Linked DNA regions of Homo sapiens. The gene in region 2 interacts genetically with the main gene of each other region. Each region holds a gene or a part of one and is shown on either strand. Other genes may lie near its edges. The genes, in order: PEX11G and DNM1L.

Region 1 (8,412 bases), on a different chromosome or scaffold from region 2:
AGTGCTGGGATTACAGGCATGAGCCACTGCACCCAGCCGAGACAGGGTTTTACCATGTTGGCCTGGCTGGTCTCGAACTCCTGACCTCATGATCCGCCAGCCTTGGCCTCACAAAGTGCTGGGATTACAAGCATGAGCCACTGTGAGGGGCCAAAAAATTTTTTAAAAAATGTCCACTCAGGTCCGCACCCTACTCCCTAGAGCCCCACAAACCCTGTTACCTGTGCCCCCAGGCCATATTGCTTAGTGTAGACAAACATGGCCAGGTCATCAAAGAGTCGCAAGATGGTCCTGCAGTGGCTGAGTTGGGTGGACACCACCAACAGACGTGTCCCCACTTCGGACCTGGCGGGACACTGTTCAACCAGAACTCCACCAACCAGCTGGCAGCAGTACCCCAGCACTCGGATCTGTGGGAAACCAGAAGCAGTCAGTGTGGCCCTCCTGTTCTGCAGAACTGAGCTGCATCCCCCCATACCTGGCCCCGGGCCCCGCTGGATTGAGAGTGTGGAAGATTCTCTTTTTTTTTTGAAAGAGTCTCACTCTGTCATCCAGACTGGAGTGCAGTGGCACGATCTCGGCTCACCGCAGCCTCCATCTCCCATGTTCAAGCAATTCTTGTGCCTCAGCCTCCCCAGTAGCTGGGATTACAGGCGCCCACCACCACACCCTGCTAATTTTTATATTTTTTGTAGAGACAGGGTTTCACCAGGTTGGCTAGGCTGGTCTCAAACTCATAACCTCAGTGATCCACCTGCCTTAGCCTCCCAAAGTGCTGGGATTACAGGCATGAGCCACCGTGCCTGACCCAAGAGTTTGGAAGATTCTAAATCTACAAAGTGACAGTAAAAGCTGAAAGTTTAGGTGGGGCACAGTGGCTCACACCTGTAACCCCAGCACTTTGAGAAACCGAGGTGAGAGGATGCCTTCACACCAGGAGTTTGAGACCAGCCTGGGCAACATAGCAAGACCCTGTGTCTACCAAAAAAATTTTTTTTTTTGAGACGGAGTCTTGCTCCGTCACCTAGGCTGGAGTGCGGTGGCGCGATCTCGGCTCACTGCAAGCTCCACCTCCCGGGTTCATGCGATTCTCCTGCCTCAGCCTCCCGAGTAGCTGGGACTACAGGCACCCGCCACCAAGCCCACCTAATTTTTTGTATTTTTAGTAGAGATGGGGTTTCACCATTTTAGCCAGGATGGTCTTGATCTCCTGACCTCATGATCCACCCGCCTCGGCCTCCCAAAGTGCTGGGATTACAGGCGTAAGCCACCGCGCCTGGCTACCAAAAATTTTTTTAAGTTAACAGGGCATGGTGGTTACTTGGGAGGCTGATGCTGGAGGATCACTTGAGCCCAGGAGTTCCAGACTGTAGTGAGCTGTAATCGTGCTACTACACTCCAGCCTGGGCAACAGGGCGAGACCCTGTCTAAAAAAAGAAAAAGAAAAAGAAAAAAAAAGCTGGAAGTTTAAAAACATACTTGGAGGTGGGACAAATGAAGAAACATGACATCATTGATGTAACTGAAGGGCACAGCCTTTGGGAACAGATGTGACAGGAACAAAGAAAACAAAGCTCCTTACTTCCCACCTCCTAGGTCCTTCTTTTCCCAGGTGGCAGGAAGCCACAGCTAAAGTGTATATTTACATCTACCTGCCTGGACCAAAGCCTTTGGATGTGCTGAATGGTGGGCACAGGTGATCAGGCCTCAACCCAGTGAACAACAGGATAATTTGGTAGAATTACTTTAGAGAGAAAGAACCTACTCAGTAGGTGATGTGGAGCCTTCTGAAATAGGTCATCTTCACTACTCAGATCTTTTTTCTTTTGGAGACAGAGTCTTGCTCTGCTCCCCAGGCTCGAGTGCAAAGGTGTGAGCTCACTGCAACCTCTGCATCCCAGGTTCAAGCAATTCTCCCGCCTCAGCCTTCCAAGTAGCTGGGACTACAGGCACGCACCACCACATCCGGCTAATTTTTGTATTTTAGTAGAGACGAGGTTTCATCACTTTTCCCAGGCTGGTCTCAAACTCCTGAGCTCAGACAATCCACCCAGCTCAGCCTCCCAAAGTGCTAGGATCACAGGCGCGAGCCACCACGCCTGGCCTCCCTTATATCTTTATTTTACCTGCTTTTCAGAAATTGCTTGTTCCTGTTGTTTTATTTATTTTTACTTGTAATTCCTTTCCAGCCCCATTATAATGGCAAAACACTGCAATCTGAATGTTCAACTCGGGGGAGATTTGTTAACCCACCCCCCCAATCATAAGATATTTGAATGGAATCTAAATGCCTAGCCACCAGTACACCGCCTGGTACAACCTGAATGTCTACCTATAAGAGACTGGTGGGGACAAGCTAAGAGTCCAGACTCAGGGGCATGGATGGCATAACCTAAATGTTCAACCATATGGGACTTGATTGGAACTAAAAACTGTCCAGCCATAGGGAGAGTCTTGCAATATCCTAAATCCCCACATGAGATTGTTTGGGACAACCCAGGGACCAACTACAGTGGCCCGGTCAGATCCTAAATGTCCAAACATGGGAATCTGTTTGGTATGTAAACGTCCAGCCAGGCTGGGTTGGCAGAGACGATCTAAATGACCAACTGGGGTTTTGTTGGAACCCATCGCTGCTTAGGCATGGCAGGGCCCAGGCCATGGCGTGTTCTTTGGTCTAGGTTGGCTGAAACAACCTAAATGCCCAACTATAGGGAATCTGGTTGGAAGTGAATGTCCAGCCACAGGGGAGCCCTGCAACATCCCAAATCCCAACACGAGATTGTTCAGGACAACTTCAGTGGCCTGGTCGGATCCAAAACGTCCAAACACGGGAATCTGGCCAGTGTGTCAATGTCCAGACAGGTTGGGTTGGCAGAAACTATCTAAATGTCCAACGCTGGCCAGACGCGGTGGCTCACGCCTGTAATCCCAGCACTTTGGGAGGCCGAGGCAGGTGGATCGCTTGAGGCCAGGAGATCGAGACCATCCTGGCTAACACGATGAAACTCCGTCTCTACTAAAAATACAAAAAAATAGCAGGGAGTGGTGGCGGGCGCCTGTAGTCCCAGCTACTCGGGAGTGCTGAGGCAGGAGAATCGCTTGAACCCGGGAAGCGGAGGCTGCAGTGAGCAGAGATCGCACCACTGCACTCCAGCCAAAATAAATAAATACATAAATGTCCAATGCTAGGGCACCGCATTTGAGCCTAGCTCGGACGGGGCCTCTGCGACGGAGTATCCTGGGCGACCCCGTCCCCTCTCTGGCCCGTTTCCCAGTCTCTGAGCTTGGGCCAAACTCTAGGACCTCCGGCCCCGGTCCGCCCCTGCCTCACCAGGCGGTCCCGGCCCCTGTACGACTCCAGCGCCGACGCCAGGCCGCTCAGCGACGCCATGGCAACTCCGTGACGTCACCGCGACGTCGGCGCGCCGCGCCAGGGGGCGGGGCCAGGCCGGGGTACCGGGAGCGCCCCAAAGGCTTGCGCGCAGGCGCGGCCGCAGGCCTTTGTCCCCCTGACCGGCTTTTTGTCCGCTGTAGGGGAGGGACAGAGTTTGCAGAGGTGGGGCCGACACGTGTGTGCTCTCCAGGCCTGCAGACCCTGGATCATCCTCGGAGTTTGCTGCATTCTGCCCCACGGCGGTTTGGCCAACTACCCACGCACAAAAAAATATATTTCTAAGTTTAACCAACTACCCACACGCTCCAAAAATATTCCAAGCAAAACCACCAACCTGTTCGCAGTGGTTCAAGGAGAGATTTTCCTTTTTAGTTTTTGTGCTTCACCTTTTCTGCACTGTCTGCCTGCCCGTAGTGAGCAGGAATGACTGCTGTAATATCACAACAAGGCATCTTTCGACGTTAAGGAAAGACGTTATCTTTGGACGTTAAGAATTGTTCTAGAATACATAAATAAAAAATAAAAATGCACAATTCAGTGACATTAGTACATGCACATGTTGGACAACCATCACCCCTTGCTAGTTTCGGGGTATTTTTATCACCCCCAAGAGAGACCCCCGTAGGAGACCAGCATATGCCCCTCTGAAATATGCGACCTTGGTGTAGGATTATTTTGAGCTGAGATCAATGAAGCTGATACCGGAAAAGCTCTCTGTTCTTCCCTGATTTGCCTCAAAGCAGGACCTAAAGGTACAAAGGTGCCCTCCTCCCCTCTCTACCAGGAAGGACAAAGGTTGATCACCAGGGACACCTTTAGACTCTTGTCTGGAGACGTCTTTTTTTTTTTTTTCTTTTTTTTTGAGACGGAGTCTTGCTCTGTCCCCAAAGCTAGAGTGCAGTAGCGCCATCTCTGCTCACTGCGTCCTCCGCTTCCCTGGTTCAAGCGATTCTCGTGCCTCAGCTTCCCAAGTAGCTGGGATCACAGCTGTGCACCACTGTGCCCGGCTAATTTTTGTATTTTTGGTAGAGTCGGGGTTTCACCACGTTGGCCAGGCTGTTCTCAAATTCCTGGCCTCAAGTGATCCGCCCGCCTCGGCCTCCCAAAGTGCTGGGATTACAAGCGTGAGCCACCGCACCCGGCCTCAATGTCCTTTTCCTTCGTCTTGTCACTTCTCCAAAAATTTGCTGCTATATGTTGAAGGTGCTATATAAGCAGGAGTTATATAAGCTATATAAGCCACCTCATTTCTCTTGGCATCTCCCATGTACACATAAGGTACACATGTTAATAAATTTGTTTTTCCCTTGTTAATTTTTTTTTTTTAGACGGAGCCTCGCTCTGTCGCCCAGGCTGGAGTGCAGTGGCACGATCTCGGCTCACTGCAAGCTCCGCCTCGCGGGTTCACGCCATTCTTCTGCCTCAGCCTCCCGAGTAGCTGGCACTACTACAGGCGCCCGCCACCACGCCTGGGTAATTTTTTTTTTTTTTTTTTTTTTGTATTTTTAGTAGAGACGGGGTTTCACCGTGTTAGCCAGGATGGTCTTGATCTCCTGACCTCGTGATCCGCCCGTCTCTGCCTCCCAAAGTGCTAGGATTACAGGCGTGAGCCACCGCGCCTGGCCTCTATTTTTTTTTTTTTTTTTTTTTTTTTTTTTTGAGACAGGGCCTCGCTCTGGGAGGAACCAAATTTGTAGATGTGAAGCCGCCACTTGTGTGCTCTCTGGGCCTGAGGACCCAGGATGATGCCCAGAGCTTGCTACATTCTGCCCCATGGTAGCTTGACCAACTACCCACAAAAAAGGGGTAGAGTGCAGCGGCACGATCTTAACTCACTGCAGCCTTGAACTCCTGGGATCAAGCCATCCTGCCACCTCAGCATCCTGAGTAGGTGGGACCACAGGTGCCTGCCACCACAATTGGCTAATTTCTTTTTATTTTTTATTTTTTGTAGAAATGGAGTCTTACCATGTTACCCAGGCTGGCCTTGAGCCCTGGGCTTAAGCAATCTTCCCACGTCGACCTTCCAAAGTGCTGGAATTACAGGCGTGAACCACCGCACCCGCCCTTCTTAATTCTTTCATTGCAAGGATCCATCACAGCTAAGAACTAAGAATAAAGGAAAAAGTATGTTTCCTCCCCTACACCCTGTTCCCATAAAGCAATCACTCAATTCCTCCCTCCTCCCAGCCCCTGGCAACCACTAATCTGCATTCTCTGCTGTCTCTCTGTATTTTTACCACTTCTTGATTTTTTTTTTTTTTTTTTTTTTTTGAGACAGAGTCTCACTCTGTCACCCAGACTGGAGTGCAGTGGCATGATCTCAGCTCACGGCAGCCTCCGCCTCCCAAGTTCAAGCAATTCTCCTGCCTCGGCCTCCCAAGTGGCTGAGAGTACAGGTGCGCACCACCACACCCGGCTAATTTTTGTATTTGTAGTAGAGATGGATTTTACCATGTTGGCCAGGCTGGTCTTGAACTCTTGACCTCAAGGGATCTGCCTGCCTCGACCTCCCAAAGTGCTGGGATTACAGGCATGAGCCACCATGCCCGACCTCCTTGATATTTCATACAAATGGAATCATACAATATGTGACCATTTGTGTCGGCCTCTTCCACCAAGCATAATAGGTTGTTTTGGTTTTTGCTTTTTGTTTTTGAGACAGGGTCTTGCTGTGTCACCAGGCTGGAGTGCGGTGGTGTGATCATAGCTCACTGCAGCCTTGAACTCCTGGGCCTGAGAGATCCTCCTGCCTCAGCCTCCACATTGCCTGGGACTACAGGTGCACGCCACCACATCTGGCCAATTTTTAAAATTTTTCTTTTGTAGAGATGCGGTCTCGCTATGTTCACCAGGCTGGTTTCGACCTCCTGGACTCAAGGGATCCTCCTGCCTTGGCCTCCCAAAGTGCTGGGATTACAGGTGTGAGCCACTGCGTGCAGCTGAGCATAATGGTGTTGAGGTTTGTCTAAGTTGCAGCATGTATCAGAAATTCATTCCACTTGCAGCTATATAACATTGCGCCATATGGATGGACCACATTTTGTTTATCCACGTATCAGCTGATGGTCATTTGGGCTGTTTCTGCCTTTTAGCGATCGTGAATAAGTACAGCTATAAACATTTGTGAATATGTAGTTGGAGTCCCTGGATTCCATTCCTTTGGGTCTATACCTAGAAGTGGGGTTGCTGGGTCATTTTGTAACTCTATGTTGAACTTTTTGAGTAATTGCCCAACTGTTTCCCACAGTAGCAGTACCATTTTCCATCCCCACCAGCATTACACAAAGGTTCCAATTTCGCCACTTCCTTGCAACATCCTTTTTTGATTATGATAGCCATCGTAGTAGGTGTGACGTGCCACCCCATTGTGGTTTTGTTTTGCCTTTTCCTGATGACTAATGATGTCAACGAGTCTGTTTGTTGGTTTGTTTGAATTTTTTTTTTTGAGACAGAGTGTCACTCTATTGCCTAGGCTGGAGTGCAGTGCTGATCTCAGCTCACTGCAACCTCCACCTCCCAGGTTCAAGCGATTCTCATGCCTCAGCCTCCCAAATAGCTGGGATTACAGCACACCCGCCACTGTGCCCGGCTAATTTTAGACTTTTAGTAGAGACGGGGTTTCGCCATGTTGGCCAGGCTGGTCTCCAACTCCTGATCTCAAGAAATCTGCCCACCTCGGCCTCCCAAAGTGCTGGGATTATAGGCGTGAGTCACCGCGTCTGGCCTCGATGTTAACCAGTTTTCTTTCACAGAATATTTCCTCTTGATTTCAACTCTTGTTACTCTTCTCCTGCATTGCTTTCCTCCTGTTGTTTAAAGTTACAGCAGATTCCTGCCTCAGGAACTTTGCATGTTCTGTTTCCTCTGCAGAAATGTTCTTGAGCCAGATACCAACGTGGCTCCCTCCTTCCCTAACTTCCTTTACTCGAATGTCATCCTCTCACGGGACCCACCCGATCACACCCTCCTGGACACTTCCTACCCATGTTACCTGCTGGTGACCTGTCTTGTTCATGGCTATATCCGCACAGCCTGGCAGAAAACAGAGAATCTGTTTTGTAAGTTTCACTGCCCTGTCCAAAGATCTCTTCTTGTGCTCCAAGGGAGCATGGAACACAAGGGGGCACAAGAAAGGCCTTGTCCACTCCTGTGATTTTCTTCCTCTCTGTCTCTCTCTCTTTCTGTTTTTGTTTTTAAACAGAGTCTCACTCGGTTGCCCAGGCTGGAGTGCAGTGGCATGATTTCGGCTCACTGCCATCTCCACCTCCCGGGTTCAAGCAATTCTCCTGCCTCAGCCTCCCAACCAGCTGGGATTACAGGCACCTGCTACCACGCCCCCACTAATTTTTGGAGTTTTTAATAGAAATAGGGTCTCACCATGTTGGCCAGGCTGGTCTCAAACTCCTGGGCTCAAGTGATCCACCCACTTCGGCCTCCCAAACTGCTGGGATTACAGGCATGGGCCACCATGCCCAGCCTCTTTTTTTTTTCTTCTTGTTTGTTTTTGAGACAGGGTCTCGCTCTGTTGCCCAGGCTGGAGTGCAGTGGCATGATCATAGCACCACTGCTGCATTGAACTCCTGGGTTCAAGTGATCCTCCATCCTCAGCCTCCCATAGCACTGGGATTACAGGTGTGTGCCACCACACCTGGCCCCAAGAGACTCTTTAACTTCCACATCCAGCTCCTTTTAAGACTTGGGTCCACTGGCTGAGCTCAGTGACTCACACCTGTAATCCCAATACTTTGGGAGGCCAAGGCAGGTGGATCACTTGAGGTCAGGAGTTGGAGACCAGCCTGGCCAATATGGTGAAACCCCGTCTCAAAAAAAAAAAAAAGACTTGGGTCCACGGGTCTTTGTGCACTCCCCTCTCCCCCAGTGGGGGGGTCACTCTTTTTTTTTTTTTTTAGAGTCAGAGTCTCGCTCTGTCACCCAGGCTGGAATACAGTGGTATGATCTTAGCTCACTGCAACCTCTGCCTCTGGGTTCAAGTGATTCTCCTGCCTCAGCCT
Region 2 (8,492 bases):
CATTTTCTTTGGGGTAGAGCTAGAGAGAATGCCCCAAGCTTCTGTGTGGTTTCTTCTAATTCTTATTGCTTGAAGTATGAGTATGTCACTTACCCATGCTTCTGTTTACTATGTATTAAAATGTGTAGTACTGTTTACTTAACTACCTCATGGATGTGTTAAGGCATATTCAGTTAAATCTCATAAAATGTTTCTCATTCTCATTAAAAGCTCACATTTTGGGCCTATTTGTAATGCCAGTGTTGACACTCAGCATTTTGTTCACACCATGCTTTGACAACTAAACTGGAAAACAGTTATCAAACTAAACTATCAGTTAGTGATCTTTGTGTGGCTTCTATATATATTATTATATATATTATTATTTTTTATATATATATTAAATATTTAATTTATATTTAATTAATATAATTTATATATATATATATATATATATATATTTTTTTTTTTTTTTTTTGGAGATAGAGTCTCTCTCTGTTGCCCAGGCTGGAGTGCAGTGGTGCGATCTCAGCTCACTGCAACCTCCACCACCTGGGTTCAAGCGATTCTCCTGCCTCAGCCTCCTAAGTAGCTGGGATTACAGGCACGTGCCACCACGCCCAGCTAATTTTTGTATTTTTAGTAGAGATGGGGTTTCACCATATTGGCCAGGATGGTCTTGATCTCTCGACCTCGTAATCTGCCTGCCTCAGCCTCCCAAAGTGCTGGGATTACAGGCGTGAGCCACTGCGCCTGGCCAATGTGGCTCCTATTTTTATAGAAGTAGATGGATGCACTATTTCACAAGGTCCAACAATTTTTTTCTGTATGACTGCATAGTAGTAAATACTACAGGGATAGCACATAGTATTGTAGTCATGAGATTAAAGTAGAGATAAGACTATTTTTGACAAAAGATGCCATTAAATTTCAGACTGTAGTGCCACATTTACAATACCTCAGGCTAATTACTGTTAATTTTGAGGCAACTTTCTTTTGACGATGGCGAGGGTGGACTATTGGATTGTCATTAGAGGAAGGTCTAGATTTCCTGCTCTTAACAAAATTACATTGAATTCATTTTTAGAGGTGATGAAAACTTCCTTTTTGAGAAGTTAGTGTTCAGGTCTTGGAATGTGAACACATTGTTTGTAATGCTATCCATTCCTCTCCTGAGATTTTAACTTACTACTGGAAATCCTTAACCAATTATAATAGCTTTGTTCTATTTTCAAAATCATTTCCTTTGCTTTGATTAGACACTCTGTTTTTTTGTTTGTTTTGGTAGCCGTAGTTCATCTAAATGCAGCTTTTTCTGAACTTTAAAGATAGAATCCCTGTTTTTTTTTTTTTTTTTTTTTGAGACAGAGTCTTGCTCTGTTGCCCAGGCTGGAGTGCAGTGGCACCATCTCGGCTCACCACAACCTCCGCCTCACGGGTTCAAGCAATTCTCCTGCCTCAGCCTCCCAAGTAGCTGGGATTACAGCTGCCCACCACCACGCCCGGCTAGTTTTTGTATTTTTAGTAGAGATGGGGTTTCACCATGTTAGCCAGGCTGGTCTTGAACTGATGTCAGGTGATTCACCCGCCTCAGCCTCCCAAAGTGCTGGGATTACAGGCATGAGCCACTGTGCCTGGCCAGAATCCCATTTTTAACGAACTGAGGTAGCAAAATAATCTTTTTCATTCTTTTAGGAAATAGTTATTGCCAAAGTGAAGGTGTCGATAATACCTGGTCTTGTTATATAATGGGGATGTGGTTTGCAGAAGAATTTTCTTTATAAAATTGAAGTTTCAAGGGATATCAGTGTTTATGCCATTTTTCCAGTTCCAAAATTATTCCATTCCATTCTAGAAATCTGAAGTATGTAACTTGAAATCCTTAATAAAATTTGGATTCAATTAAAAAAAAAAAAGGATGGAATTTCAATATGTTGCCCAGGCTGGACTTGAACTCCTGAGCTCAAGGAATTCTCCTACCTCAGCCTTCTGAGTAGCTGGGACTACAGGTGCACACCAACATGTAATTTTGTTTTTATGTTTTATTTTTACTTATCTGCATTTTCTAATTTTTGTGAGCAATTATACTGTGTGTACTAAAGAAACAAACACTTTAAAAGCTAAATTATTTTTAAATACTTATTAAAATATTTAATACTTATTAAATACTTATAAAAATAAGTAAATACTTATAAAATATTAAAATATTTAAAAATATGTGACAATTTTACTTTGCTTTATATCATTTACAAAGCATATTTTCACACAACCAGACATCATCCTATTATCTCTACAAAGTTATATTTTTGTTTTATAGAAAATAAATCTTAATCAGATAATCTGAGCTGAAGTCATCTTCACAAAAGGAAAAGTGACCTAGCAATCTAGGTAACCAAATCTACAGAAAAATTTCTTACTTACAGCTCCGAAGTTTCAATATATTTTGCAGTTCCTTCAATAGTGTTACAATATTCTGTGGCAAATTTGGTAATAAGTTGGAGTAAAGTAGCACTTTTATCATCCACGGGTTCACCGTAGCTATTTAGAAGAGACTGATACTGAGCAGCTAGAACATTTATTCTTGTTTTCAACTCTGGTAAACAATCTCTGATGTGATGCATCAGTAACCTAAAAAAGGTTAGAAAGGAAGGATTTAAAAGTAAAATTGTGTATTCTAAAGCCCTAAACAAGTCAAATTTTTACAATGGGGAAAACCTATCAAATAATTTGTCCTGGCAAATGTGATACTGTGAAATATATATTTGGTCTTTGTCTTCATTTCCTGGCAGTCAGCTCCTAAAATCCTTGGACTCTCCAAGAGCATTAAGGGTGTTTAGAGTGTCTCTGCATGCTAATGAGATGACTGGTGGCTGGGGGTCCCTAGATAGCTTCAGGATGGGAGCTGGTCACCAGAACAGCCTCAGAAGAGAGGAGAGAGGCCAAACATTGAGCTGATCACCAATGGCCAATGAAGCTTCCATAAAAACTCAAAAGGACACAGTTCATGGAGTCTTCAGAGAGTTGAACACATGAAGGTTCCTGGAGTGTGGTGTGCCCAGAGAGGGCACGGAAGCTCCACATTCCTTCCCACATGCCCAGCCCTGTGCATCTCTTCATCTGGCTATTTATCTATATCCTTTGTAATATGCTTTACAGTAAGTGGGTATATGCTAAGTAGTGTTTCCCTGACCTCTGTGAGCCACTCTAACAAATTCATCAAACATGAAAAGGGGATCATGGGTACCCTGACTTATAGCCTGTCAGTCAGAAACACAGGCTACAACCTGTGCTTACAACTGGCATCTGACTTGGGGGCAGTCTTGTGGGACTGAACCCTCAACCTGTGGGCGCTGACACTATCTCCAGGTAAACAGTGTTAGCATTGAATTAAAGGACATTCAGCTAGAATCCCCTGGAGAATTCCTTGCTTGATGTATGGGGAAAACTCCCCATATATCTGCTCTCAAAAGCATTCTGTGCTATACTGATTAACTGTGTGTGAAAAGGAAAAAAACAATTTTGATTGGTTTTTCCTAAATAATAAAAGCAAGGAAAAAATGCAAATTATTTTCATATTACTGCAATTACCACAGAGAAAATAAGCCACCCAATCAATTCTTCCTATATAATTTTGGTTTCATTGACTTGTCATTTACAATTGGTACCCAGCAAAGTGAAAATCAACCTTATTAAGATCCAAGTCTATCAGTCTTTAGGGAATAAGATAAAAGTAAGAGAAAATGGCTTCCACTTCAGTCATTTATAAATCATCTAGAAAGGGCTTCTAGTCCCCACACATCAGTGGGTATTCAGAATCCAACGTATAGTTATTTCTACAGTGAATAGAAATAAAAGACATTCTATTTCTTTGTTTTTCCATCTCCCTTTCCTGGTAAATAAAACACATTCTAAGGTAAGAATAGATAATGTGAAAATTACAAATTTTAATCAGTTCCTGAAATGCAAAGTGGAAATGAAGTCATCTCTAGTTCTAGCCACAAAACTAAATTAACTGTCAAAATTTTCGTAATTAAAACATTTTAAAATCACTTGTACATTCATTCTAGACTACGTGATGATGTAATGTCAACCACCCCAATAAAAACAGAGACATCTACTCTTCAGGAACCTACTATATAAGAAACCATAAGTGAAGCTGTTAGGAACAGTATGAAAATGTAAGGAACTGAAAATGAACCCTCTCAGACACCAATTGGTAAAAACAAACACATCTCATTTCCAAAAGGTAAAAAAATTACCTGTTTAGAGTCCTAGCAAGATACTTTGTTCCATTTCTATTGGCCAGAGATGGATATTTCTTTTGAAGAAAAGCATACTCATCACGGATTGAATCAGTTACACTCTTCTTGTTGTTAATATCTAGCTGGCTCCTGAGGTTGAAAAAATAACGAAACTATTCAGCTTAACTGTTGTCCTCTTCCTACCTTAGATGATGACAGCACCAGGCATTGTTCTCTAATACCTGACAGGGACTGTTTTATTTAATTCTCACAATAATTTTATGTGGCAGGTATTATTACCCCATTGTATAGCAAGGAACTGAGGCTCACAAAAACTAACTTACCCCAGGTCACACACTAACTGGCATAGCCAAGACTTGAACTAAGTGAATTGTAAGTAACTAGTGCCTAAATAGAGTAGGCCTCATTATTACCATTAACTATAGACAAAAACAATAAGTAACAGGTATAGACAGGTATAAAAATATAAGAGTATCTTAGTCAACTGTATATTTTATCCATGGACAGGGAACTAATTTCTCCCAAAAATAATTAAGTTAACTTGAAGAACAATCATCTACAAACAACGAACAGTGTTAGGCCACCTCCTTACCTGAAAAAGGAGACAGCTGGAATTGGGAGTGGGGATGGGAGAATGACAGTGGGGATGGGAGAATGACAGTAGGGTTGGAATGGAAGGACATTAAAATAGAAGCAGACAACTGGAATGGATCTTATGTATCAGGCAGTAAAAACATTTTCATTTTCTAAAGGCTTGAGACCCAAAGACATTAGGTGTCATTTAAACCTACGTTGTATCTAGTTTATGTAAGAACTAGGACTATAACTCAGATTTCATGATAATTTCAGTGTTTCCTACCATATGAAGGCTTTGGACTAAAAGAGATATTCATCCGAATCCAGCTCTTTCACTACCCACGTGACTTTTGGTTAAATGTATAACCTGAGGTTTCTGATTATAAAATAGACATCAACACCTACCTCAGGGGATGCTGTGAGGATTCCAAGAGATACCATTTGCAAATTGCTCACAGTAGAGTGTCTAAAACGTAATTAGACACTCAATAATAATTTCCTTTTCCCGATTTTTAATACCAACTATTTATAATTAGGATACCTTTAATAAAATTTCTCCAAGTCACATCCTGGCAATTACACAGAATCACTAATGCTAGGGATTAAACCAATCTATTAAAATCTTGTCACCTTTAATTAGACACTCAATACTAGTTTCCTTTTCCCAGTTTTTAATACCAACTATTTATAAATTAGGATACCTTTAATACAATTTCTCCAAGTCACATCCTGGCAATTACACAGAAGCATCACTAATGCCAGGGATTAAAACCAATCTATTAAAATCCTGCCACCTTAAACTCTTTCTCGATTGGGTGCACATTAGATAATTTTTCCCTTACCCAGTACCTCCTCATACATAGCTTAACATGATAGGCAAGAATTCTTAAAGCCTGGCTATTACAACATTTCTTCCATTTTGTGGTATTGCTTACTTTAGAAACATTTTCCAGTAAAAATGTCTATGGGGCAGGCACAGTGGCTCATGCCTGTAATCCCAGCACCTGGGAAACCAAGGTTGGAGGATTGCTTGAGCCCAGGAAGTCGAGACAAGCCTGGGCAACATGGCAAGACCTTGTCACTACAAAAAAATTTAAAATTAGCCAGGTGTGGTGATACACACCTATAGTCTCAGCTACTTGAAAGGCTGAAGTGAAAGGATCACTTGAGCCCAGAGGTTGATGCTACAATGAGCCACAATCACGCCACTGCATTCCAGCCTAGGCAACAGAGAGAGACCCTATTTCAAAAAAAAAAAAAAATTCTCTCTCTTTTCTCCCTTTAGGGCAACGGATTCTTTAGCAATACCAAGATCATAATAAAAGGGAGAAAAAATATAGTACAGCATCACATTTCAAACAGATTTTAGAAATTCAGACTTGCTCTGAAGTGAGAATGCTTATCCCATTCTAAGAATGCTTATCCCAATTCTTATCCCATTCTAACTGCTAACCTGTTAACTACTCCAATTATTCCAAGTTTGACTGGAATAACCCTTCCCATCAATACATCCATGGCATCAGTACCCGCATCCATGAGATCAAGTTTAGTGATTACAGCTAGGGTTCTGCGACCTGGTAAATGCAAAAAGAAAAAAGGGCAAAGAAAAGAAAGAAAATGATCCATTAAATACAACTATTTAGTGTTAATAAAGGAAAACCCTCATCTACAATCCCACTTAGTATTACCTCTGTCATCATTTTGGTAATGCCTTACTTACCAGTGCTTTTTTAAAAATAATGTTAAACATTGTGTATAATTTTTTAAAACATTTTTGCCGGGCACGGTGGCTCACACCTGTAATTCTAGCAGTTTGGAAGGCCAAGGCGGGTGGATCACCTGAGATCAGGAGTTTGAGACCAGCCTGACTAACATGGTAAAACCCCATCTCTACTAAAAATACAAAAATTAGCCAGGCACAGTGGCAGACGCCTGTAATCCCAGCTGCTCGGGAGGCTGAAGCAGGAGAATTGCTTGAACCCGAGAGGCAGAGGTTGCAGTGAGCTGAGATCGTGCCATTGCACTTCGGCCTGGGTGACAGAGCAGGACTCCATCTAAAATATATATATATACTATACATATAAAATATATATACTATATTATATATAAAATATATATAGTATATATATAAAATATGTATAGTATATATATAAAATATGTATAGTATATATAGTATGTATAGTATATATTTATAATATATATACTATATATATTATATATACTATACATACTATATATACTATATATAATATATATACTATATATACTATATTTTATATATATATAAAATATATACTATATTTTATATATATACTATATATAGTATATATAAATATATATAGTATATACTATATATAGTATATTTATAAAATATATATAGTATATACTATATATATTTTATAGTATATATATTTCAGTTACAAATATATATATCTACCTAGGTATATATATTTTTTATATATATATCTACCTAGGTATATGTATTTTTTATATATATATCTACCTAGGTATATGTATTTTTTATATATATATCTACCTAGGTATATGTATTTTTTATATATATATCTACCTAGGTATATGTATTTTTTATATATATATCTACCTAGGTATATGTATTTTTTATATATATATCTACCTAGGTATATATATTTGTAACTGAAAAATGCCATAGGTAAAATTGTACACTATGCAGAGCAGGACTCCGTCTAAAATATATATATATACTATATATATATAATATATATACTATATATTTAAAATATATATAGTATATATTTAAAATATATATAGTATATATTTAAAATATATATTATATATTATATATACTATATATTATATATAGTATATATATTATATATACTATATATAATATATAGTATATATAAAATATATAGTGTATATATAATATATAGTATATATAAAATATATAGTGTATATATAATATATAGTATATATATACTATATATACTATATATAAAATATATATAATATATACTATATATTTTATAGTATATATAAATATATATAGTATATACTATATATATTTTATAGTATATATATTTCAGTTACAAATATATATACATAGGTATATATATAAAATATATATAAATATATAAAATATATATATAAAATATATATATATACCTATGTATATATATTTGTAACTGAAAAATACCATAGGTAAAATTGTACACTATGCAGAGCAGTTGGAACTCTCACACGTTGCTGGTGGGAGTGGTGTAGTCATTTTGGGAAACAGTCTGGCAGTTTCTTATAAAGTTAAATTAGCAGTCCCATTCCTAGGTGTTTAACCATGTTAAGTGAGAACCAGTGTTCATATAAAAAACTATATGCAAATATCTACAGCAGCTTTATTCATAATTTTCAAAAACTAGAAACAACTCACATATTTCTCAGATGGGTAGTGAAATACCTATGGTATTTTCAGTTACTATATATATATATATATATATACTATATATAGTGTATATATACTCTATATATAGTATATATATAAAATAGATTTTTTTCACATGTAATTTTTTGTTGACTCTTAGGGCTATTTTGTAAGCATTTCAAAAATCTGTATAAAATTTACATCCAGGTGATATGGCCCATGCCTGTAATCCTAACACTTTGGAAGGCCAAGGCAGACAGATTGCTTGAGCCCAGGAG

Evidence for each region.
Region 1: of DNM1L (region 2) and PEX11G, changing one enhances a phenotype caused by changing the other (phenotypic enhancement), as found in Homo sapiens cells (one study listed by BioGRID).

What each region holds. Positions count from the first base shown.
Region 1 is NC_000019.10:7,485,617-7,494,028, forward strand, and holds the start of PEX11G (peroxisomal membrane protein 11C), read right to left. Parts: upstream 3,420-8,412; 5' UTR 3,395-3,419; coding exon 3,335-3,394; intron 411-3,334; coding exon 222-410; intron 1-221. UniProt on the Homo sapiens protein: Promotes membrane protrusion and elongation on the peroxisomal surface.
Region 2 is NC_000012.12:32,716,542-32,725,033, reverse strand, and holds part of DNM1L (dynamin-1-like protein), read right to left. Parts: intron 6,392-8,492; coding exon 6,271-6,391; intron 4,371-6,270; coding exon 4,239-4,370; intron 2,608-4,238; coding exon 2,401-2,607; intron 1-2,400. UniProt on the Homo sapiens protein: Functions in mitochondrial and peroxisomal division.